7 linked regions of the Homo sapiens genome follow. The protein of the gene in region 4 interacts with the protein of the main gene of each other region in a pairwise test. Each region holds a gene or a part of one and is shown on either strand. Other genes may lie near its edges. The genes, in order: ECT2, ZKSCAN4, ZBTB44, PSMA6, TRIM39, PAXIP1 and LIMD2.

Evidence for each region.
Region 1: the proteins of PSMA6 (region 4) and ECT2 interact in a two-hybrid assay, tested with the Homo sapiens proteins (one large-scale study listed by BioGRID).
Region 2: the proteins of PSMA6 (region 4) and ZKSCAN4 interact in binary tests that used the Homo sapiens proteins (3 or more experiments, as listed by UniProt).
Region 3: the proteins of PSMA6 (region 4) and ZBTB44 interact in binary tests that used the Homo sapiens proteins (3 or more experiments, as listed by UniProt).
Region 5: the proteins of PSMA6 (region 4) and TRIM39 interact in binary tests that used the Homo sapiens proteins (3 or more experiments, as listed by UniProt).
Region 6: the proteins of PSMA6 (region 4) and PAXIP1 interact in a two-hybrid assay, tested with the Homo sapiens proteins (one large-scale study listed by BioGRID).
Region 7: the proteins of PSMA6 (region 4) and LIMD2 interact in binary tests that used the Homo sapiens proteins (3 or more experiments, as listed by UniProt).

What each region holds. Positions count from the first base shown.
Region 1 is NC_000003.12:172,806,226-172,809,725, reverse strand, and holds part of ECT2 (protein ECT2), read right to left. Parts: intron 1,957-3,500; coding exon 1,802-1,956; intron 1-1,801. UniProt on the Homo sapiens protein: Guanine nucleotide exchange factor (GEF) that catalyzes the exchange of GDP for GTP. Promotes guanine nucleotide exchange on the Rho family members of small GTPases, like RHOA, RHOC, RAC1 and CDC42.
Region 2 is NC_000006.12:28,245,770-28,249,269, reverse strand, and holds part of ZKSCAN4 (zinc finger protein with KRAB and SCAN domains 4), read left to right. Parts: intron 1-1,120; coding exon 1,121-1,203; intron 1,204-2,177; coding exon 2,178-2,301; intron 2,302-3,294; coding exon 3,295-3,500. UniProt on the Homo sapiens protein: May be involved in the transcriptional activation of MDM2 and EP300 genes.
Region 3 is NC_000011.10:130,255,918-130,259,417, reverse strand, and holds part of ZBTB44 (zinc finger and BTB domain-containing protein 44), read left to right. Parts: intron 1-3,500. UniProt on the Homo sapiens protein: May be involved in transcriptional regulation.
Region 4 is NC_000014.9:35,298,882-35,302,381, forward strand, and holds part of PSMA6 (proteasome subunit alpha type-6), read left to right. Parts: intron 1-3,500. UniProt on the Homo sapiens protein: Component of the 20S core proteasome complex involved in the proteolytic degradation of most intracellular proteins. This complex plays numerous essential roles within the cell by associating with different regulatory particles.
Region 5 is NC_000006.12:30,333,427-30,336,926, forward strand, and holds part of TRIM39 (E3 ubiquitin-protein ligase TRIM39), read left to right. Parts: intron 1-2,318; coding exon 2,319-2,549; intron 2,550-3,500. Other genes in the region: TRIM39-RPP21 protein, read left to right, coding at 2,319-2,549.
Region 6 is NC_000007.14:154,947,625-154,951,124, forward strand, and holds part of PAXIP1 (PAX-interacting protein 1), read right to left. Parts: intron 1,867-3,500; exon of another isoform or gene 1,674-1,866; intron 467-1,673; exon of another isoform or gene 380-466; coding exon 279-379; exon of another isoform or gene 274-278; intron 150-273; exon of another isoform or gene 69-149; intron 1-68.
Region 7 is NC_000017.11:63,697,326-63,701,398, forward strand, and holds the start of LIMD2 (LIM domain-containing protein 2), read right to left. Parts: upstream 2,801-4,073; 5' UTR 2,707-2,800; exon of another isoform or gene 2,478-2,706; intron 2,024-2,477; 5' UTR 1,974-2,023; coding exon 1,932-1,973; intron 1,745-1,931; coding exon 1,703-1,744; intron 1,614-1,702; coding exon 1,474-1,613; intron 1,387-1,473; coding exon 1,227-1,386; 3' UTR 1-1,226. UniProt on the Homo sapiens protein: Acts as an activator of the protein-kinase ILK, thereby regulating cell motility.

The sequences.
Region 1 (3,500 bases), on a different chromosome or scaffold from region 4:
TTAAGAAAGCTCAGGTTACTTAGGGTACCAAAAAATTATATATATACAGGGTACCAAAAACAAAAATTACTAATTCAAAGAATCAGAGATTTTTATATCTTTTTACATCTTTCACGTGTGTGTGTGCGTGTGTGTGTGTGTGTGTGTGTGTGTGTGTAGATATACACACACATTATCTTCACAGGAAAAATTCTCAGGGCTTTATAAACATTTACTATATGTAGAACTTTAAACGCAGGAAAGGGCTCAACCAAAGTCACCGAGTACCTGAATTTACAAACGTATTTCTTAAGAACAAAATTTCAATAGATTGAAAGAATTTTGTAGTGTAAGGATAAGTCAGAACATAGTTAAACGTTTGCTGCCATCTTGTGGCTAATTTTACTTATGAATTTCTTCCATATGTTATTATATTTCAGTTCTAGTACTATTAGCCATCATGTGGCTAGTAATTCAATAGATTATAAGAAAAATTTTCTGTTAATGTTTCATTTCAGTATTAGGGTTATAAGTTTGGAAAGGACTCTATAAACTATCTAGTCTGACATTCTGATAAGAGCAGGAGTAATTTCTGCATTAAGGAACTTCTACAGATAAAACCATTTTATATATGGATACCTAGAAAAAGTGGATGGATACCTACAAAAAAAAACCTTACAATGAGCAGTTTTGAAAGATTTATAACAAAAGTGGTCTCCATCATTTTTCTAGCTAGCATTCTATTGTATTTGTTAGCATTGTATTTCCCTCTCTGAATCTTTTGTGCAACAATTTTTTATTTATAAGAACATATTATTGGTCCATAGAAATCTAAACACACACACACACAAACAAAAAGTCTGATTATTGTTCTAAATACTTTGGAAGGAGGTTTTCATCAATGAATACTTACTTTATAAACCACATTAAACCTAAATGTCTTCCAAGGTTTCACACTTAACTGTAATTACATGTTTCATTCCCACAGAAACACCCAATGCAATCTCAGTTACAGTACCATTGTACCGAAAAGGGTCATCTATTATATCCATATATTCTCTTCAATCTATGTCATTTGTGCAAAGAGTAAGAGGTCTATATCTGTCTATCACATGTGTCTCTCTCATATATAGAGAGGAAGAAATCAAATTATCTTTTAGGGACCTGGATTTCATCCAGGGATACCTGATTTCAGGCAAGTCATTTAACTTCCCTATTTTGATTCTCTCATCTATTTTCACTTTAATCTGTATAGTATAATGATAATTATATATTTATGATAGCATTTCATTTTTAAGAGGTTCACATGAGAAAAATAGATTGGCAACTTTCATTTTCAACTTGCTTTCAATAAGATTTTTTTTTTTTTTTGGCCAGGCACGGTGGCTCACGCCTGTAATCCTAGCATTTTGGGAGGCCAAGGTGGGCAGACTGCCTGAGCTCAAGAGTTCAAGACCAGCCTGGGCAACACAGTGAAACCCCATCTCTAAATACTCTCTAATTTTTAGCCATGTCTAAGAGTATCAATGAAAAATCACAGGGTACATTACAAGAAGTCCCAAAATCTTCACTGAATCAGAGCCACAGGGGCTATAAGACTATGAGGGCCTACCTTATGTAAGCCAAGAACTCAAATAATATTTTGTGTACCTACACTATATAAAATATTTTCTAAAACAACTTATTACATCAGTTTTTTTAATATACACAAAACTAAAACTCTCCATTCATAATAAACAAGTCATTAAAAATGTACAGGTTTAGTCTGAATGCACTGTCATGAAATTTAAACTTTCATTATAATACTGTTTTAAGAACTTACAGCATCTGCTTTACAAATGGTGTTAGCTACATGTCGACACAGCATCTTTAGCCAGTTTTCTTTTGGAAGTTCATCTGATGTCATCTGGAAACTGAGTAGCACATTTGCCTGCTCTGTTGGTGGCCTCACAAGCAAGGCAAAAGCATTATGGCAATCTAGGGTTCCAGAATAACCATAAACATTAAGTGTCACTCCTTGGAAAATGACAGATGTATGCAAGTTTAGTTCCCTCAGAGCAATGAAATTCCAATGAAATGAACTATCACTTCTCCACTTTCCTTGTCCTATTTTTAATAAGACAAAGAACATCACCATATTAAGTTGAAGTACTGAAAACACAATATAGTATACCACGTAAGGAACTAATGATGATGATAAGTTAATGACATTAAGTAAACAGTATTATCCATGTCATTTAATATTTTCTATGATAAAAATATTAAGTGTTACAAAAGTTGCACGATCAAGATGCTAAAATACAACCTATTTTAAACAAAGTCTGCCATAATTAAAATCCAAAAATGAAGATTTTTAAAACAAATATATAGTCAGCCTTCCGTATCTGTGGGTCTGCATCTGTGGATTCAATCAACTGCTGACCGAAAATAGTAGAAAAAAACAGTAGAAAACAGATTGTATCTGTATTGAAAATGTACAGACTTTTTATTCTTGTCATCATTCCCTAAACAATATAGTATAACAACTGTTTACACAGCATTTACACTGTGTAGGTACTATAAGTAACCTAGAAATGACTTACAGTACATAGGAAGATGTGTATAGGTTACATGCAAACACTATGCAATTTTACATCCAGGACTTGAGCATCCCAGATTTTGGTAACCAAGGGAGGTCCAGGAACCGTCCCCCGTGGATACCAAGGGACAACTATACTATGTAACCTTTAATAAATCCAGAATTTGTCAACTAAGTGAAAAGAGCAGGAAGTTGCTGTTCAAGTTTTCTTTAAGAATCATTTCTTGGCGGGGTGCAGTGGCTCATACCTGTAATCCCAGCACTTTGGGAGGCCGAAGTGGGTGGATCACTTGAGGTCAGGAGTTCAAGACCAGCCCGGCCAACATGGTGAAACCCCGTCTCTACTAAAAATACAAAAAAATTAGCCAGGCATGACAACACACGCCTGTAATCCCAGCTACTCAGGAGGCTGAGGCAGGAGAATCCTGGCGGGAGCTGCAGTGAACCAAGTTTGCGCCACTGCACTCCAGCTTGGGTGACAGACTAAGACGTCATCTCAAAAAAAAAAAAAAAAAAACCCACAAAAAACAAAGAAAGAATCATTTCTTATAAAGGAAAAAAAAAAAAAAAAGAATAATTTCTCACAAACTGAAACCTTTCATTATTAGAGGAATCAGTAATGGAAAGAGCTAAATATTGTAAAAACATATGCCTAACATCCAAAATATGGCCATGCACATACACCACTGGGTGTCAATTAAACAGATGACACTGTTGTAGGTAGGTATAAATTTTCAGCAATTTCAGGCCTTCAGAGAACCTGCTCTGTAACACTACCAAAGTTTAGAGTAAAACATTCCTTAATACACATATGACTCCATATCAAGTCTACCAGTTACTCTGAGTTTATTTATTGCACCCACATCTATTCCTGACCCGTACCTTAAACATAGCCCTAAAAATGCAACTGTTGGCCAACAGTGAAAGTGTTAAGATGAGGGGT
Region 2 (3,500 bases), on a different chromosome or scaffold from region 4:
AAGAAAATAAGGCAGAATTTGTAAAGCCAGCCAGAACATTCCAGAGATAGTAGGACTGCTGCAAATAGAAGAGTGTAAATCTAAACCCTGTAAAGCCTGTGACTAGAAGAGTGAAAATCACTTAATAGGAAGCAGCTGTGTGTTCCATGCTGTTCCTCATCTGCTGTGAACATCTGGGCCGATTCCTAAGACATACAACACTTGGACATGCCATCCAACATGCAATCTTTATTTCTCAGCAGAGTTTCTGGCCTAAACCAACTTATTTTCTGCCCCTTGCAAATTGACTTATTGTAGGGAAACCTAAGGTTTCTTCTGCTTCTGAGTCTGAGCAAGTTCTATTTAAGCAGTCTTCCAGTCTTCCATTGCCTCCTTTCTGGACCCAGCCTTATTTGACTCCTCCTAGTTTTTCTTTTTCTTTTTTCTTTTTTTTTTTTTTTTTTGAGATGGGGGTCTCACTCTGTTATCCAGGCTGGAGTGCAGTGGTGAGACCTTGTCTCACTGCAACCTGTCTCCCAGGCTCAAGCAATCCTCCCACCTCAGCCTCCTGAGTAGCTGGGAGCACAGGCCCATGCCACTACACCTGCTAATTTTTTGTAATTTTGGTTCAGACAGGTTTCTCCAGGTTGCCCAGGATGGTCTCGAATTCCGGAACTCAGGCAACCCACCTGTCTCAGCCTCCCAAAGTGCTGCGATTACAGGGATGAGCCACTGTGCCTGGCCTCCTCCTAGTTTTTCATACCTGAAGTGGAAAGCATCCTAATATCTACTAAAGACATTTTAACCAAAACAAAACAAAAACAAAAAACCCTCTTTACTCCCCATCTCCTAGCAAAATTCAAAACCCAAAGGTCTTCAAATGGAAAGCTTTGTTATGTTGCATTCATTTCACCACTCCTACCAACGATTCTGCACGTGGTTTTTGTATATCTGCAGAGTGCACCAGACTTCTTTCGGCCCTAGGGCTGGAGCTGGTGGGAATCAGGCATTTTTGAAAGGAACACATTCTGTATAAACTTATTGGCAAGAACTTACTGCCCCAGTTTTTGAACTTGGATTTTGCAAGGTGGGGAGGCTGAATACTAGGGTAGTTCTCATCCAGAGCTTCTTTCTTTCTTAGTTCTCCAGGTTCCTGGGCTTGCCCAGGGAGGGTGCTGCAGAGAAGATGCAATGGTAGCTTCCAGGCTCACTCCAGGGTCCCAGGTGAGCTGGAGCTCCTCTCCCTCCCCAGCGCCCCATACCTTTCACTACTGTTGGGCTCCGCATTAAGTTCCTCCCTCCCCAGTCCTACCCCACCCCTATCCTAGATCTACATGAATTTGAGTTTTCTCATCTATCCCAAAGTTGCATATAATTGTCCACCTTCATTTTGGTGCCCACCTAAGAGGACTTTCCTGTTTCACAACAACCTTGGAGTTTTCTTTGTACTTCTCAGATCTTTCCTCCTACATTTCTTCGGTCAGCCTCTTCTTCAATGTGATTTTTCTCCTTCAACAAGGGCAGTTCCGCAAAAGCAAACTGAAGGTTTTGTTGGGATGGTCATTCTGTTTTGCTTTTTAAGATACAATAAGCTGTGCTGTTGGTGAGGGATATAAAGGCCTGGCCCTTGCCCTCAAAGAACTTATACTTGAAAGGTCAGATAAGGCATAGTTATCTTGAAGTTATTTATATTACAATATGAACAATCTTTTCTCAACCTAGATTTCAATTTACTACTCAGCCTTTCCTGTCCTGCTTGAAGATCTCAGTGTTTGAGGCTGTGTAGTATCCTTTTTTTCCCCTAATTTTTCTCACTTCAGTTCTAGATTTCATTGTATTTTTGAAGCTATTAATGTAAATGAACCCCTACTCTCACTTTGCCAAAGCATACTGCAAATCTTTTGAAAATTTTGGACATAGTTCCATTCCTTTTGCTGCATTGACCCTTGTCTTCCAAACCTTTTTACTTTCTGGACTGTTTAGATATTTATATGAAAGTACTTATCCTAAAATGTGTGTAATATTTCTTTCATTTGGCAGGTTTTCTTGATTAAGATGTTATTAGAGATAAAGCTAAATTGGTGTAGGTGTGCCACACTTGCTCCTTTTTAAAGAGCCTCTTTAAAGGGGATGTTCATTCTTTGCTTTGGGGGTAATTTTGGGCAAGAGGAGCTAGTTAGGACTACCTATTGTTTTAGGGTTTGCTGAAAATGGAAGATGTGGCCCTGACCCTCACTCCTGGGTGGACACAGCTGGATTCATCTCAGGTGAACCTCTACAGAGATGAAAAGCAGGAGAACCATAGCAGCCTGGTCTCCCTTGGTAAGACTGAGACACTAATTTGTCTTAAGATTTCTTGGCATTCTTTGCGTATTAGAACCTATTGGGCTGTTAGAAGCTGTTAAGCCCCCATTATGTTTGGATTCAGAATCACCATTCCTGAAAGCCTGTTACTGACTACTAGCTCCTTACTCCTTCTGACCTTGCTTTCTCCTCTGTCATGCCAGTGTTCTAGTTAGGATAAGTGGGGTGAAATTGATACAACTCCTTGTACAGGTCTGGCTCATAGGAGATGCTCAGTAAATGTTGATGTCCTCTTGTTCCTATCCCTGACTGAAGAGGAAAGCTGCGGGGAGGGGGGGGCCTCTTCAGGAAATGGGCCATGGATTCAGAACGTGAGAGCCAGAAGCAACCTTAGACATCAACTACAGACCCTGACCTTAGGGGTGAGGGTGCAGAGGCGTAGATTACCTCACTTGTTTGAAATCTCATAGCTTATTTGTGGCACAGTGGGGGCTCTACCTCAGAACTCCTAGCGCCAATGCCAGTTCTGTTTGAGAACTTTGCCTCTGCCTGGGCACAGTTAGAGATGACGGTCCATGTCATTGATCGATCACCAGTCACCAGTTTCTTTGCTTTTGCCATTTCTTGCAGGTGCTTCAGAAATCCTTCCACTTGCCCTGTTACTGTCACCCTCTGCTCACCCCTTTCAAAATCTAATCCTAGGTGCATGGCCCTGCTTACTATTCTTAGAGCTTAGAACCATCACATATGTCCCCTGCATAGTCCTGGGTCCTCACCATTTTCCCTCCACTCCCAGTTTGTACCCTTCCAATGGCCCCATTCTCATTCTCAGGCCTCCTTCCTCCCCAGCACCCCTGTTCTCCCTTTTTATTCCCATTCTTATTCTAGCACTTAAATCCTCATCCTGGGCATATATAGACTTCTGTAATTCTTGTCTCCCTAGTACTCATCACAGAGCTTTCCTCCCATGGCAGGGCATAACCCACAGTTGCCGGCCATTTGTTGTTTCAGGTGGTGAAATACAGACTAAGAGCAGGGACTTGCCTCCAGTCAAGAAGCTTCCAGAAAAGGAGCATGGGAAGATATGCCACCTGAGGGAAGACATTGCCCAGATTCCTACACATGCAGAAGCTGGTGAACAGGAGGGCAGGTTACAAAGAAAGCAGAAAAATGCCATAGGGAGTAGGCGACATTATTGCCATGAATGTGGAAAGAGT
Region 3 (3,500 bases), on a different chromosome or scaffold from region 4:
GTTTCTAGATTCATGAGGAATCGCCACACTGTCTTCCACAATGGTTGAACTAGTTTACAGTCCCACCAACAGTGTAAAAGCATTTCCTATTTCTCCACATCCTCAACAGCATCTGTTGTTTCCAGACTTTTTAATGATCACCATTCTAACTGGTGTGAGATGGTATCTCATTAAATTTCCATATGAAATTTAAAGGAGTTTTTTCCAATTCCGTGAAGAAAGTCAATGGTAACTTGATGGGGATAGCACTGAATCTATAAATTACTTTGGGCAATATGGCCATTTTCACGATATTGATTCTTCCTATCCATGAGCATGGAATGTCTTCCCATTTATTTGTGTCCTCTCTTATTTTCTTGAGCAGTGGTTTGTAGTTCTTGAAGAGGTCTTTCACATCCCTTGTAAGTTATATTCCTAGGTATTTTATTCTCTTTGTAGTAATTGTGAATGGGAGTTCACTCGTGATTTGGCTCTCTGTTACTGGTGCACAGGAATGCTTGTGATTTTTTATCACAAAGTGTTCAGGAATAAAAGTCCAGGGCTGGTACAGTGAATCTGCAATATAATCAGTGGCCTAGGCAACTTGTATATTTATAAACTGCCATCTTTACTTTGTTGGTTTCATCCATAAGATGCTCATTTCATCTTCAGCTTTGTATTCTAGAAAGGGGCAATGCTTTGTATCAAGAAAGCACCTATGTTCTCAGAAATCCCTAAAAAACTTCTGCTAGTCTGTGTCACATAGTCTTTCCTAGCTGCAAGGGAATCTGGGAAGATAATGTATATTAGTTGGGTACCTAAATGCCTTGAACAAAATTAGAGCAAAATGGATATTGAGTATGCAACTAGCAGTGTCTGCCACAAGTAGGCCAAGTAAGCTTGGATTTTATCTTAGTGGTAGGTAGTAAGGAGTCTACATTAAAGGGATAAAAACAAAAACATGCAGATATTTTAGGAAAACTGTTATTGACATGCAGTGAGTTTGGTTTTACAGAGACAGTCTCAGAGACCAATTGCAGTGCACTTATCTTGGTGTGAATGAAGACTTAAAACCATGTGAAAGAAAATAGATATTACAAGACTTTGTAAAGAAAGACTTAGTACCTGATGATACTGAATATGTATATTGAAAGAACAGGAGAGGTTAAAGTACTCTGATGACTAGGAAATAATGGTAACACTTTATTATATTCCATTGATTCTAAGTCACAATTTTTCATATTTTGTTATTTCTGAATCCAGATATGTCTTACAGTTGGCAGTCTTCTACAGTTGCTTTTTTCTTCCTTAGTGCTATAGAGAATAATGGCAATCATATGAATCAATAGCATTTTAGCATCTATTAAATGTAGTTAGTGCCGTATGAAAATCAGTGGAAGGTGGTGGGAATCCAGTTTTGAGAGTAAATTATCAAGGTCACTTCTGTGTAAATTGTGCTTGGATGATGATCAAGCAGTGTCATTTCAAAAGCAGTAGAAAAGATAAGTGAGATTCCCAACTTGGGACTTTTCTACTAGTAGTGGCAAATTCAATCTCAATAGGAAAAACAGAAGAGCCAAAACCAAGGGGATACCTTGGGGAATACCTATATTCAGGTTTGGGAAGGGATAGAAGAAAAGCCACTAGTGAATAATAAAGATTTGTCCAAAATATTGGAGAACCGGGAAGACCATATTAACTTTGTTAGTTTCTTGTGCTTTTACCCTCTGTGTGAGTTTCCCTGGGCTGCTGCAACAAAGTACCGCAAACTGAATGGTTTAAAAAAAATTTATTCTCTCATAGTCAGAGGCCAGAAATCTGAACGACAGGTGTTAGTTCCCTTTGAAGGATCTTTCTCTCTTTGAAGATTGTAGGGAAGAATCCTTCCTTGTCTCTTCCAGCCTGTGGCAGCTGCCCACAATCCTTGGTGTTCTTTGGCTTGTAGCTCCAGTATATGATATTGTGCTTTAGTATATGCGTTCGTCTTCACATGACCTTCCCTGTCTCTCTGTTTTGCCACTGGCTTCAAATCTCTCTCTCCCTAAAAGGACACCAGTCATTGGATTCAGGTCCCACCCTAATCCAGCATGACCTCATCTTAACTTGATTACATCTGCTAAGACCCTATTTCCAAATAAGGTCACATACATTGGTAGCAAGGATTAAGATGTACTTTTTCTTTTTTTTTTTTTTTTTTTTTAAGATCTGGGATGCATGTGCTGAACATGCAAGTTGTGTTTTTGGGTATTTTATTTTCTTTGTAGCAATTATGAATGGAAGTTCACTCATGATTTGGCTCTCTGCTTGTCTATTACTGGTGTATAGGAACGCTTGTGATTTTTGCACATTGATTTTGTATCCCGAGACTTTGCTGAAGTTGTTTATCAGCTTGAGTTTTGGGGCAGAGACAGTGGGGTTTTCTAAATATACAATTATGTCATCTGCAAACAGAGACAATTTGACCTTCTCTCTTCTTATTTGAATACCCTTGACTTCCTCTCTTCCTATTTGAATACTCTTTCTTTCTCTTGCCTGATTGCTCTGGCCAGAACTTCCAGTACTGTGTTGAATAGGGGTGGTGAGAGAGAGCATCCTTGTCTTGTGCCGGTTTTCAAAGGGAATGCTTTCTGCTTTTACTCATTCGGTATGATACTGTCTATGGATTTGTCATAAATAGCTCTTAATATTTTGAGATATGTTCCATCAATACCTAGTTTATTCAGAGTTTTTAGCATGAAGGGGTGTTGAATTTTTATTTTTAATTTTTATTTATTTATTTATTTTTGAGACGGAGTCTCACTCTGTCACCAGGCTGGAGTGCAGTGGTGTGATCTCAGCTCATTCAAGCAATTCTTCTGCCTCAGCCTCCTGAGTAGCTGGGACTACAGACGCATGCCACCACACCCAGCTAATTTTTGTATTTTTAGTAGAGATGGGATTTCACCATGTTGGCCAGGATGGTCTCGATCTCTTGACCTCGTGATCCGCCTGCCTCGGCGTCCCAAAATGCTGGGATTACAGGCGTGAGCCACCACGCCCAGCCAGGGTGTTGAATTTTATTGAAGGCCTTTTCTGCGTCTATTGAGATAATCGTGGTTTTTGTCATTGGTTCTGTTTTACGTGATGGATTACGTTTATTGATCTGCGTGTGTTGAACCAGCCTTGCGTTCCAGGGATGAAGCCAACTCGATCCTGGTGGATAAGCTTTTTGATATTCTGCTGGATTCAGTTTGTCAGTATTTTATTGAGGACTTTCACATCAATGTTCATCAGGTATATTGGCCTGGTATTTTCTTTTTTTGTGTTGTGCCTCTGCCAGGTTTTGGAATCAGGATGTTGCTGACCTCATAAAATGAGTTAGGGAGGAGTCCCTCTTTTTCTGTTGTTAGGAATGGTACCAGCTTCTCTTCGTACCTTTGGTAGAATTCAGCTGTGAATCTGTCTGGTGAATCTGTCTGGTGCTGGGCTTTTTTTGGTTGGTAGGCTATTTCAGGAGAGTTTATAGCATGAAGGGGTGTTTT
Region 4 (3,500 bases):
CACCACCATACCTGGCTAATTTTTGCATTTTTAGTACAGACAGAGTTTCACCATGTTGGCCAGGCTGGTCTCAAACTCCTGACCTCAAGTGATCCACCTGCCTCGGCCTCCCGAAGTACTGGTATTATAGGCGTGAGTCACTGCGTCCAGCTATTTATTTTTTGAGACAGGGTCTCACTCTGTCGCCCAGGCTGGAGTGCAGTGGTGTAATCATAGCTCACTGTAGCCTCAAACTCTTGCACTCAAGAAATTCTCCTGCCTCAGCTTCTCAAGTAGCTGGGAGTACAGGTATACACCACCATGCTCAGATAACTTTTTATTTTTAGTAGAGATGACATCTTGGTGTTTCCCAGGCTGGTCTTGAACTCCTGGGCTCAACTGATCCTCCTGCCTCCATTCCCAAAGTGCTGGGATTATAGGTGTGAGCCGCCGCAGTGCCCAGCCTCTTTTTTTTTTTTTGAGATGGAGTCTCACCCTGTCACCCAGACTGGAGTGTAGTGGTGCAATCTCGGCTTGCTGCGACCTCTGTCTCCTGGGTTCAAGCGATTCTCCTGCCTCAGCACCCCAATAGCTGGGATTACAGGCGCCTGCCACCACACCTGGCTAATTTTTGTATTTTTAATAGAGGCAGTGTTTCACTATGTTGGTTAGGCTGGTCTTGAACTCCTGACCTCAAGTGATCCACCCGCCTCGGCCTCCCAAAGTGCTGGGATTACAGGCGTGAGCCACCATGCCCAGCCTCTTTTTTCTTAATTGGCCTTCATATACCATAGGTTGTCCGTATCTGCTCTAAACCATGATACTACTGTTTACCCTGCCAGTGTTTCTTTAAAAGATACTCTTTAGGTGTTGAGTTGTCTAAATTCTTTGCTCTGGCAGTTTCCATTTTTCTGGAAATTATTATAAAACATTTCATGGTGGTAGTGTTAAAATGGGGATTCATTTATACAAGCCTTTACTGAAATTACAGTGCAGCTTGATGAGTACTAAATAGTATAAAAAAGGTATTACAGGAAGTGACTAACTGCCTAGGAGAGCCGGGAAAGGCTTCTCAGAGATGAATTGGCCCAGATGAAGATTAAATAAGGAAATTTGGGGGACCAGTGCATAGATCAGTCAGTGTGAATGCAGTATAGACAGTAACAACTGAAAGAGTAAATTATAGCAATATTTTGAAGGGGCTTGAGTACCATGCTAGAGTTTGGACTTTTTTCCATGTGTTTTGAACAGAGCTAGCAGGGGTCTTTAAGAATGGCGAGGTAATTAAGTAAAATAATAGGAGAGTTGAGTGTAGAAATGGGATTAGAAAGGGACTGATGGTTCACACCTGGAATTCCAACACTTTGGGAGGCTAAGGCAGGAGGATTGCTTGAGGCCAGGAGTTCGAAACTAGCCTGGACAAAATAACAAGACCTTGTCTCTGCAGAATATATAAAATGAAATTAGCCAGGTGTGGTAGTACACACCTGTTGTCCCACATACTCTGGAGGCTGAGGTAGGAGGATTGCTTGAGCCGAAAGTTTCAGGTTGCAGTGAGCTACGATCACACCACTGCACTCCAGCCTAGACAACAGAGTGAGACCTTGTCTCAGAAAAGAAAATAAAAAGGGGACTGGTGGCAGGAAGAACAATTAGAAGAGGTTTGCTCAGTATCAGTAATTCATATAAACCCTAATGAGTGAATTAAGGTAATAAGAGAGAAAGGGTGGAGGGGTCTCTTGAGCTTATTTTTCACATTTTTATTATAGAATACTTTAGACAAATGTAGATAGACTAGTACAGTGACCTTCATGTACCCATCACACAGCTTCATCTGATGTCAATATTTTGTCAGTCTTGTTTTCTCCCTTTCCCACGCACTTTCCCCGCTCTTCTAGAGTACGTTAAAGCAAATCCTAGGTATAAGAATGGACATTTCTTGGGAAAGGGCAGGAGGTTAGAGTCAAGAGTGATAACCCAGGTTTGTAGCTTGAAAAATTGAGTGGTTAGTAATACAATTATGAAATAAGGACTGTAAGAAAAGCAGGTTTATAAAGAGGAAGAGTTTATTTTTAGACATGTCTGTGGCTAATAGGCATAGGTATTTGAAGAAATAGACATTTGTAATTATAAGTCCAGAGCTAGAGATGACAGATTAGTAGTGATTATCTAGGTTATAGCTAAATCTCTGGTTTAGGGTAAAATCATCCAGGGATGGAGAAAATAATAGAATTCTGGGAAATACCAGTATTTCAGGAGCTGGCTGAAGAGATGAAAGCAGTGAAGAAGATTGAGAAGGGAAGTTCAGAGAAGTAGGAGAGGAAGAGTAGGAATGATATTCTTAACAAAGAACTTTAAATTTGGCTGAGCGCAGTGGTTCACACCTATAATCCCAGCACTTTGGGAGGCCGAGGCGGGTGGATCACTTGAGGTCAGGAGTTTGAGACCAGCCTGGCCAACATGGTAAAACCCCGTCTCTACTAAAAATACAGAAAAACTAGCTGGGTGTGGTGGTGTGTGCCTGTAATCCCAGCTACTCAGGAAGCTGAGGCAGGAGAATCGCTTGAACCTGGGAGGCAGAGGTTGCGGCGAGCCAAGATTGCTCCACTGCACACCAGCCTGAGTGACAGAGTGAGACTCCATCTCAAAAAAAAAAAAACTTTAAAATCCAGTTGCTCAGTTACACTAGCCACATTTTATGTGCTCAATAGCCACATATGACTAGTGACTATCATATTGGACATTGCAAATATAGAACATTGCCAGCATCACAGAAATTTCTGTTGGACAGCACTGGTCTATATAAAGAACGAGGGCCCCCTTAATGAATCCTGGCAAATTCACAGGTGCATTCTCTGTTGAGAAGCATTTTTTATATGTAAAATGTTTTTTATTTTGTGAGACAAAAGTTTATGTGGTAGGGAAGATACTCTTTTGTGGCTTTTACCTTTTGCATTATTTAAGCAATAAGCATGTATTCATTTATTTAGTTCAGGGATGACAGACACAAATGCTTACACAGACCAGATAAGTAATGCCAGTGAGTAAAACAGGCTGAGTGAAAGATAACAGGAAATGGTGGGACCTGTGGAAAACTGCAAAACACCTGCTCAGCTTAGGTGATTTTTTTTTTCTTTGTGGCCAGTTGCTATGTGGGATTGAAGATCAAGTGTTACTAGAATTTTTTTTTTTCTAGGAAAAAATCACATCTCTAAAGACCCTCTGCCTGCTTTTGCCATATAAGGTAACATTCACAGGTTCCAGGGACTAGGACATAGATATATTTTGGGGATGCATTTACCAACCTACCAGAGGGTTAATGATTTTATTGGCTCAAAGAACCAGTTTTTGACTTAGCTGGTTTTTCTCTTGTTGTCTGTTACTGTTTCTTGATTTCTGGCCATGTTGTCCAGGCTGGTCTTAAACTTCTGGGCTCAAGCGATCCTCCCCATTCAGCCTCCCAAAGCAGTGGGATTACAAGCATGAGCCATCACACACAGCCAGAATCACTACAAATTTAG
Region 5 (3,500 bases), on a different chromosome or scaffold from region 4:
GGCTCACTGCAAGCTCTGCCTCCCGGGTTCATGCCATTCTCCTGCCTCAGCCTCCCAAGTACCTGGGACTACAGGCGCCCACCACCACACCCAGCTGATTTTTTTTTTCTATTTTTAGTAGAGACAGGGTTTCACCGTGTTATCCAGGATGGTCTCGATCTCCTGACCTTGTGATCTGCCCACCTCGGCCTCCCAAAGTGCTGGGATTACAGGCGTGAGCCACCGTGCCTGGCCGCCCAGGCCTGTGTTTTTGAATATCCAGCAGAACATTAGAAAATGTTGCAGGTCAGTTCACTATGCCGGATTGTCTCACACATTGGAGGAGTGCTTGCGTCATTGTCAGGAACTTCCCCAACCATGGAAAACAAGAAGATGTGCCTATTTCCAAAATATCCTCAGAGTGTGTTAACAGCTTCATCAAGAACCACTGCCCTAAAATATAGAGTGAAAAAAAGAGAAAAGATTACCGGTTTATAAGAGGAAGGGCCTTTTTGCTTCCTATTTATCACAGTCATGAATGTTAAACTTACACCCATACCTAAACAAACACACATGCATGCACACACATGTGCAAACACACACACACAAAGGCTGTGTTTTATTGAGGGCAAATGTGAGAATATATTTTGTTCAGATGTACACTGAGAAGGCAGTGGTGGAAAGTGAAGCAGCAAGTGGCCCTAAACTAGAAGAGCTAGTCAGCCTCTGCCAGGAACTAGCTTGAATCCACAAATGCCACGCTTGTCAGGCCCATCCTGGCTTTGCATCCCCACTCTCTCTCCACCCTCAAGCCTGCCTTTCATTCCCTATCCACTTCCTTCTAGAGTCCCAGTCTCTGCTTCTCACTTTGCTTCATCATCAGTCACATGATGCTTGGGGAATTCTTTAGGGAGATCACTATTTGTTGTAGTGGAGATGCAGAAGAGAGGATGTGCTGATAATTCTCAGAAAGTGTTATGGCTGGTGTTTGAGTCCTATATTATCAAATTTCAGGAATGTTAGAGGCTTAAGTCTGTGTGCTGGCTTAAAGAAAGCATGTTTCAAATTTCAAGAAACTAAATTACTAACAAACTTCTGTAACCTGTTCCTGGGGTAGGAATTGCCAGTTCTCTGAAGTGACTTGAAACAATTTAACAAGTTCAGCCCTGAAATCTACATATGTATATTTTATAATAACCCATATAACTCTTACTGATTCTTACACTTTCCCAGTTCTCTGGTTTTTATCTGGTGCATGTGTTGCAATATGCAAAGGATGACAATCTTATTTTTAACTTTTTATTATTTGTACTTTCCTTTTTGTTTCGTTGTTTTTTGTTTGCTTGTTTTGAGACAGAATCTCACTCACCCAGGCTGGAGGGCAGTAGTGATCACAGCACACTAACTCAAACTCCAGTGTTCAGGCCATCCATCCTCTTGATTCTTTTTGAGTAGCTAGGACTGCAGATGTGCATTGCCATGCCCGACTAATTTTTTTTTCTTTTTAGTTGAAACAAGGTCTCACTATGTTTCCTAGGTTGGTCTTGGCCTCAAGTGATCCTCTCACCTGGGCCTCCTAAGCACTAAGTTTACAGGCATGAGCCACCATGCTGAGCCTATACTTTCCTTTTCTCGACAGATTGAATTAACTAGAACTTTACAGTTGATAATAACACAGATATCTCTGATATCTGTAATAGTTAATGTCATCATATTATTGAGTTCTTTATCTTAAATTAAAACAAATATATATATCCGCAGTGGTCTTCACTACCAAGTCATCAGTAGGGGGGTGATAGTGATGGAGCCATTCTTTACAGAAGGAAATTCCAATGGAATAAAAAATGAGTGTTCTGTTAAACCATTTTCTCTCATTTTCTTTCTTTCTTTTCTTTCTGTCTTTGTCTTTCTGTCTTTCTTTCCTGTCTGTCTGTCTTTCATCTCGATCTGTTGCCCAAGCTGGAGTGCAATGGTGCAACAATTTCAGCTTACTCCAACCTCTGCCTTCTTTGCTCAAGCCATCATCCCACCTCAGCCTCTCCAGTAGCTGGGACTACAGGCATGCACCACCAGACTCAGCTAATTTTTTGTATTTTTTGTAGAGTTGGGGTTTCACCATGTTACCTAGGCTGGTCTCAAACTTCTCATCCCAAGCAATCCACCTCCCTCGGCCTCCCAAAGTCCTGGGATTACAGTCATGTGTCACCACACCCAGCCTTTGTTAAACCATTTTCAATGAAACTGGAAGTCTGTGTTAATTCATACATATGGTGGGTGAGAGAAAGGCTTCCTTATACCACACTGACCCTGCTGATACAACATCTTCCCTCTCTTCTCAGAGACTAGTGGAAAGTCGCCGACAGCAGATCTTGAGGGAGTTTGAAGAGCTTCATAGGCGGCTGGATGAAGAGCAGCAGGTGTTGCTTTCACGACTGGAAGAAGAGGAACAGGACATTCTGCAGCGACTCCGAGAAAATGCTGCTCACCTTGGGGACAAGCGCCGGGACCTGGCCCACTTGGCTGCCGAGGTGGAGGGCAAGTGCTTACAGTCAGGCTTCGAGATGCTTAAGGTTCGACCTTTGCCCCTGCATAGCCCCTCAGGCTGAGTGCAGCGTAGCTTTGCGTAGCCTGGGATTTGTCAGCCTGGGATACTCATTCTTCTGCTCTCCTTCTCTAAATCCAGTTCTTTCTGCCAGGTGTACTCAAAGGGTCTTTGCTACGGAAAAGTGATTTCTCCCATCCCCTTCTAACCATTTTTGTGTTCTTATCTCTGGTCAGCAATTATGTGCTTAATCTGTTCCAAAGAAAAGATTCATTCTTTTGAAAGGAGGGAAGTCTAGCCTGAGTTAGTGAAAAACTATGCATTAAAAATTTTGTAAATGCAGTTACCATTACTTTTAAGTCCTGAAATTTGATTTATGTACTGCTGAAAAAGGACAGAAACATAGTTTAAAGGATACAGGCATACCTCAGAGATATTGTGGGTTCAGTTCCATACCACTTCAATAAAGCGAGTATCTTGATAAAGCAAGTCACATTAATTGTTGGGTTTCCTAGTGGAATCATATTTTTGCTGGTGGAGGGTCTTGTGTTAGTATTGACTGATCGAGGTGGTGGTTGCTGAAGATTGGGGTGACTGTGGTAATTTCTTAAAATAAGACAACGACGAAGTTTACTTTCAACTCTTCCTTTTATGAAAGATATCTCTGAGCATGTGATGCTGTTTAATAGCATTTTACTCACCAGTAGAACTTCTTTGAAAATCTTTGAAAACCCACATTTGCAGTTACTTACAACATGGGAGTCTTGAACCCCTAAAAGTCATCCATAAGGGTTGGAATAGACTTCTTCTAAATGCCTGTTAATATTGATATTTTGGCTTCCTTTCACAAATCACAAATGTTCTTAATGGCATCTAGAATGGTGAATCCTTACCAGAAAGCCTTCAATTTACTTTGCCTAGATCTATCAGAAAAATCACTATTTATAGCAGCTTTATGAAATACATTTATTAAGACTTG
Region 6 (3,500 bases), on a different chromosome or scaffold from region 4:
TTCTTTGAATAACTTATTTCTCATAGATGTATTTATTAAATTTGTGTACTTATTTTTAAACATTATAGTAAAGAAAAGTTCTCTAGAGATGTGCTGTGGTTCACAGGAGGAAGACCTCCAGTGGCAATGTCCAAGAAGGAAGCCAAGAGGTAAATGGGATGCAGGGTGAGCCCAGCTCCCCTGGAGGCGCACTTCCCACCAAATCACCTGGTAGTTCCCTTGAGCAGGTCCGTGTGTTATGCTTACTTGGACTGATTTACTTTTCCCTTAAAGTGTACCTTAAAGAGTGGAGAAACGTGTGCCCGTTTTAAGGATTCTTCCAAGCTGAAAGAGAAAAGTACTTCTGCCTCAGCATCTCGGAGAATGTAGTTCTGCTCATCTGGAAAACAGAACAGCACATACTCTGAAAAGTGTGGACACGTGAAGTGTGGCAAGTGTGACCCACAAAATTCTCGCCCATATTCAGGTACATAATATTACAGCTACATTTACCTGTACAGCCTTCGGATATTTAAATGTCACCATTATATTTCATTTACTTCCCTCTAAAAACAGCCAGACCAAAAAGACAGACAGGTATTTTTTCTCCTAGATCAGTGGTAATTAACCATTTGGGGTCATAAACTCTTGAAAAAAACGGGCTGGGTGTGGTGGTTCATGCCTGTAATTCCAGCACTTTGGGAAGCCGGGGAAGGAAAGCTGCTTGATGCCAGGAGTTCGAGAACAGCCTGGGCAACACAGTGAGACTTCATCTCTACAGAAAAATTTTAAAATCAGCTTGGCATGGTGGCATGTGCCTGTAGTCCCAGCTACTCGGGGGACTGAAGTGGGAGGATCGCTTGAGTCTGGGAAGTTCGAGGCTGTGGTGAGCCATCATTGCACCACAGCACCCCAGCCTGGGCAACAAAGTGAGATCTGGTCTCAAAATAATAGTAATTTTTTTTTTTTTAACAACAAAAATGTAAAAAAAGAAAAAAAAAATTACTGAAAAATATGAACCCTCTTCCCATAGCTGCTCCTCCCCTCTTTACCCCCCGACTATTTTAGGAAGTTCACCAACTTTCCAAGCCCGCAGATCTCAGGTTAAAATCTCCAGTCCTAGAAAGACAAGCTTCAAATAATCCCATCCAAGTGTATATTATATATATATATGTTATATATATACACTAACTCCTCAAGGACTTGTAGGACATTGGAGTCATTTGGCTCATAATCAATTATGTGAATTACCAAACTTTAAAGATTTACCAAACACACATTCAAGTATATAAAAGTATACAGCAATTTATAAAGGATAGTTTTATCAATTTTTAAAGACTTCTGACAATTATTAATAATTGACAGATTTTCAGTTTTCATAGCAACATTTTAAGAAATGTGTCAAAAGGTAAAGATCACAAAATGTTTCAATCTTCCTATAAATATGCCTCATATTCAGAAAACCATTTCTCCTCCGCCGCCATTTCCTACCAACCATACAGCATAATAAGGCAGCTCAAACCCAATAATATATACATCAAAAGCAGAAAACAAGGAAAAGTGATTTGGGATTGGCAAACTGGGGTTGACAAGATGATACATATTTTAGGATTTGTGGGCTATGTATTATTTCTCCTGCATATTCCTCTTCTCTTTTTTAAGCAATATTTAAAAAATGTAAAAACCATTTTCAGCGTATGGACCAGTTTGCTGACTGCTGGGCAGGAGCAACCACATCATGACAGAAATGCAGGGATCTGTTCACCAACGGCCAGAAATACAAAATCAATCCCTGAGTCAACCAGCAGATAGAAAGGCTGCTTTTTAGGTGAAAGGAGAAAAAGAATGTCTAAAATTTGGAAAAACAAAAAATGATGAATTAAAAAAGGAACAAAAAAAGTACTGTTACACATGAGATGGTATATTTGAAGTGTTACTTTCAAAGCTGATATGCCTTCTGAAGAACTTGTGTGAGATCACCAAGAATAGTTAATGTTTATGATAGAGAAAACACCACCGGGCGCGGTGGCTCACGCCTATAATCCCAGCACTTTGGGAGGCCGAGGTGGGCGGATCTCTTGAGGTCAGGAGTTCAAGACCAGCCTGGCCAACATGGTGAAACCCTGTCTCTACTAAAAAATACAAAAAAATTTAGCCAGGCGTCGTCGTGGTGGGCGCCTGCAGTCCCAGCTACTAGGGAGGCTGAGGCAGGAGAATGGCTTGAACCCAGGAGGCAGAGGTTGTAGTAAGCCAATGGCACCACTCTACTCCAGCCTGAGCAACAGACTGGGTGAGACTCTGTCTTAAAAAGAAAAGAAAGTAATATTGAAAAATACAGTAATACAGCTAAGACGATCCTGTCACAGATGAGACATTGAGATTTTGGTTTTTTCAAACAGGGTTATGTTACCTTAGTAGTAGCAATGTAAAGACTCAACCTGAACATTAAACTTTTCATGGAAGTACAAAAGAAATGAGTATCCTAGAAATTGATTATAATATTGATGTCTCAAATTTTATGTAAGTTACACATAAATATAAAATCCCAAAAACATGCACCTACCAAAACAGGTGGAGAAAAGAGTGTTTTCAACAAATGATGCTGGAACAACTGCACATCCATATGCAATAAAAGGAAGCTGGACACAGACTTTACCCTCTTTTAAAAAAAACTGACCCAAAAATGGAACACAGACCTAAATGTAAAATGCAAAACTATGAAACTCCTAGAAGATAACACAGGAGAGAATCTAAGGGACCTTGAGTTTGGCAATGACTTTTTAGATACAACACCAAAGACACAATCCATGAAAGAAATAAGAAGTAACCTGGACCTCACCTATTAGAATGGCCAAAACCCAGAGCACTAACACCAGCATATGCTGAGGAGGATGTGGAGCAACAGGAGCTCCCATTCACTGCAGGTGGGAATGCAAAATGGCACAGGCACTTCAGAAGACAGCCTGGCGGTTTCTTACAAAGCTAAACATACTCTTACCATATGATCAAGCAATTGCAACCTTGTTGATTTACCAAAAGGAGTTGAAAACTTACGTCCACACTAAAACCTGTACATGGATGTTTTAGCAGCTTTACTGCTAACTGCGAAAATTTAGAATCAGCTAAGATGTCCTTGTGTAGGTGAGGGGCTGAACAGATACATTCTGACAATGGAATATTATTTAGTGCTAAAAAGAAATGCTTTATGAAGCCATGAAAAGACATGGAGGAAGCTGGGACGTATATTGCTAAGCAAAGGAAGCAAATCTGAAAATCCTATATACTGTATGATTCCCAATATGTAACATTCTGGAAAGGGCAAGACTATAGAAAGAATAAAAGATCAGTGGTTGCCAGGGGTCAGCAGGCAGGAAGGAATGAGTGGGTGGAGCACAGAGGATTTTCAGGGCAGTGGAACAACTCCATATGACGCTGTAAAGCAAAATCATGTCCTTACACATTTGTTAAAACCCAATGACTGTTCAAGGCCAAGAGTGAGCCCTAATGTAACTATGGACTTT
Region 7 (4,073 bases), on a different chromosome or scaffold from region 4:
GCAGCACTTGCTGGGTCTGCTGGTTACCGCCATTCTTCGCTAACTTACTTCCAGGTCAAAGGGCTGGGAAGAAGGGAGGGAGCTAGACAGCTGGAACCAGCCAGGGAACGCGGCAGCTTGCACCCCAGGCACTGAAGTGCAGCGAGGACAGGCGCCATCACCCACTGGCAGCCTGGCCCTCCCGCTCTCAGGCCTCTTCACAATGGGGTGCATATGGTAAGTTGGTGGGTCTGAACCAACCCAGAACTGAGGGGTGAGGTGGAGTTTCAGTTCCAAAACCACTGTGGGTGTGACAGCATGAAGCCCTCGCTGTGAAGAGGAGCCCTCCCATTTCTCAATGGTGTGTCAGGGAACTGACACCCACTTCTAGCTCCCTGCCCCCATCAGGGCCGAGGTAGTCGGGGCTGGCCCTGTCCCCCCATGCCCGCCCCATGGTGAGTCTGCACCCTTCCTGTGACAGATCCCCCAGCAGGCCACACAATAGAGAATCTGGATCTATTGAAACATGTTTAAAACGGGGTTGGTCACAACAGGATGGGCACAAATGGGAGCGGGGGAGGGGAGTGGGGCCGCACCAGCCCCTGCCAGTGCCTGAGGCTGCAGCCTGGCGAGTGCTTTTGCTTCTGCTTCTCCACGCTGGTGGTTCGAGATGGTCCCAAGCCCCACTGGGGCAGGCCCTGCCTTGCCCTGCAGAGGCAGGGTGGCTCCACTTCCCCATCTCCTCCCCCATGGGCTGCAGGGGCATTTATGATGCCCAACAGGTGGCACTGTCGCGCTCCTTCCTCCCTGTCTCCGTGGCTCAGAAACAGGTTAAGGGTAGAGGTAGATGGGGAGACGTGGGGGCCACACAGTCTCCGGTGGCAGTGAGGGAGCTTGGGACCCTGAGGGGGGCATGCTGACTCCTTGCTGGAGAAAAGGCACCTAGATAGGGGAGCTGGGCTTGGGGGCCTCCCAGGGGGTCCTGGGGTGAGGTGGGGAGGGAGGCTGAACGAAGCAGGAAGCAGGGTGGTGGGCAGACCCCAATCCTGGTTTCCAAACCCTCACCGGCTGCGGGAGAAGGAAGAAGGAAGGAGTCCTGGAGCAGAGCCCTGCCCTGGTCCCCTACGCCTGAGCAAGCCTCATCCCCTTCCCACCTGGCCCCCACGCAAGCCCAGCTCGACCTCCTTCCCACCTTCCCCCTGCCGGCTCCAGGCCTTCCGCAGAGGGGGTGGAAGGTTACAGAGGCCTCAGGCCGTCTTGGTGCCGGGGTCCACCTCCTTGTGGGCCCAGAGCTCCTTGTGCTGCTTGCGGCCAAACCCCTCGTCGTAGTTGCCTTTGCTCTTAAACAGCTGCTGGAAGTGGGGTTTGCAGTAGAACTCCCCGTGCAGCGCGGCGTAGCTGCCCAGGCTGCAGAAGCCAAACAACGGCGTCAGGTCAGGTCAGGTCGGGGCTGGGTTGGCAGGCGAGGCGGGGGCGGGCAGGGCAGGGGCGCACCTGAGCTTGGTGTGACAGTGCTTGCAGCAGAAGCAAGAGTTGTGGAAAATGAGCTTGTCGGCCACCAGCCGCTCCATGGGGTACACGGTCTTCTGGCAGGCGGCGCAGGTCTCCTTCACCTGGGCCCGCAGGCTGAAGGACTGTGCGGGAAGCTCAGCCAGGTGCTGCCCCAGTGCTCATCCCGCTCCCTCACACCCCTCCTCCCGCACACCCGGCCCCAGGCCCCTACCTTGGAGCGCTGCACCGTGCTGCTGCCGCCGCCTTTGGCGTCCTGAGGGAGAGGGGCGGTCAGGGCAGGGGCAGCTCCGGGAGGCCCTGGATCAGGGCTGCAGCCATCAGCCCAAGGCCCAGGGGCGCGCCGCAGGGCACAAAGGGGGCCGGCAAACTCTGATGCCTCTCCCCTTCACCCCAGGCCAGGCTCCTGTCCGGGGGGCCCTCCCACCCAGCCGGGCACTTACATGAGAGGGGGTGGCCTGGGCGGCTCCTGCAGCCTGGAACATGGCTCGTTGGAGGTGGAAGCCTCGGGTGGAGAAGCGGCACCCGCTGGGTTCTGCAAGGGGAAGTCAGTCGGGAGGGCCCCGCCAGCCCGGCCCCAGCCTGCAGGGTGGGGGGTGTTGACAGGCAGGGGCTGGGGGGATTGCGGTTGGGACTTTCCCTAAGTCATTTCCTGTTGCTCTTGGTCTTGCCACTTCCGCCCCTCACCCACCTCCCCCACCCCTGCTCCCCAGGGGCCGGGGTCCCGAGTGGCACCGTCCCTCGGAAGAACAAAGTTAGCGGGAGCGGAGGGGCCGGGGGCTCCCGCGCAGCCGCCGTGTGCGTCCCGCGGGCTGGGACCGCTTGGGGTGAGGGGAGGTCGGGGCCGGCGGGGCCGCGATGAGAAGCCGCTGCCCCGACCTGACCCCGGCCCTCGCTGCCCTGCGCCGCGCCCGGGCGTCCAGGCCTAGGCTGCGCAGCCCCTGGACAGCGCCCGAGGTCCCCGCCCGCCCCGCCCCTCGGCCCCCGACCTGGCCCCGCGAGGACCGGACCCCAGACCCCGACGCCGCGAGCCCCGCCAGCGGGTCTCGGCTCCGCCCAGCCGGGGGCCGGCCCTGAAACGAGGACTCGAGCCTGTGCGCCCCGGGCGAGAGCGGCTCGCAGACTCGCCGGGACCCCACGGGCGGCCCTCACCCCACACCCCTCGGCGCCTCTCCCGGTTCCGGAGCCGGACGCGGCCCCTCCCCCCGCGGCTCTCACCAGGCCCGGCCTGGGCCGCGGGGCGGGATCGGTCTCCGGGGGCGCACGGGTACGAGGAGGGCGCGGGCGCGAGCTGCTGCCGCTACCAGTGGTCCCCGAGCCACCGCCGCCGCCACCGCCTTATCGCTGCACCGCCCCCGCCGGCCCCCGCCCCGCGCCCGCCCATTGGCTCCGCCGCGCCCGGAGCCGCCTTCGGGGCCCCGGCGCCGCCGCCGACCCCCCTCCGCGCTTTGTCTTCCCCTCGCCGCCGTCCCCGCCTTTGTCTGTCCCCCGCCCCGGCTCCGCGCTCCCGGCTCCGCAGCGCCCCGCGGGCCTCGCGCTCGCAGGCCTCGGGTACCGGCCGCGCCGTCTGCCCATCCCGACGGCGGCCCGGCGTGGGGAAGCAACGGTGGCAGGGACAGGATGGAAGGGCCGCGCTCCGCATCCTACTGGGAGGGGACGAGTTCAGGCTGCGGCGGCTGCGGTCGCGGGACACTGGGCGCTCCCGGCCTGGCTCCGGGATAACCGGGCGGGGCCTGGGCCATTCACTGCCTCGGTTTCCCCCGGTTGGCCTCGCGCGTAGGCGCCGGCGCCCCCATCCCCGCCCAGAGCTGTGGGGCCGCAGAGACCCAGCCGGGGCGACCCCGGAGCCTGGCCCGGGGTCCCTCGGGCGGCCGAGTCCTCCCGCCGCCAGGGGCCGCCCCCGCCCCTTTGCGGCCCACGAGGCTGGCGGCGGCGTCCGGGCACGCGGTCTCCAGGCCCGGCCGCGAGGCTGCGGGGAGGAGCCTGCACGAGGGCCCGGCAGCCCCGGCAGCCCCCCCAGCCCTCGGCGCCTCTGCAACCCTGCGACGGGCTGGGGAGGCCGGTATGCGTGGTTCCCGGAGCACCCGTCCCCCGAGGCTCCACGTACTCAAGCGTTTCTGGGGCGGAATTCTGTGGGCAGCAACGGGGGCCCCCTCTCCAACAAGCGCACCTCATTTCTCACGTGGGAGCCGCGGCCCAGAGAGCTGAGGTGACAGAGCTTGGGCCGCAGAGCTGCTCCCTCCCTGCAGCCGCACAGCAGGCCGGAGGCACAGCCGGCGAGAGACGGCCACTCGCTTTGGAGCGGCGGCGAGGCCGGCGCCTTCCCGGGCACCAGGGACTGCGTGGCTTGGCCGGAAATCAGGCTAGAAGCAGCTCCGGGAAGCACAGCCCTTAGCCCAGCGCCTTCCCACACTGTGGCAGGAATAGCACTGGCGGCCCACGCGCTTGTCAGGGAACAGAACAGCTCTCGCCCGACGCCTGGCAGGGGAGCAGGGAGGCTGCAGCTTCCCCAGCGACCAGCTGTTTCCCAGGCTGGCGGACTCCACGGACCGGCTCCGCGTCTCCTCTCCAGCCTTCTGTTCTCT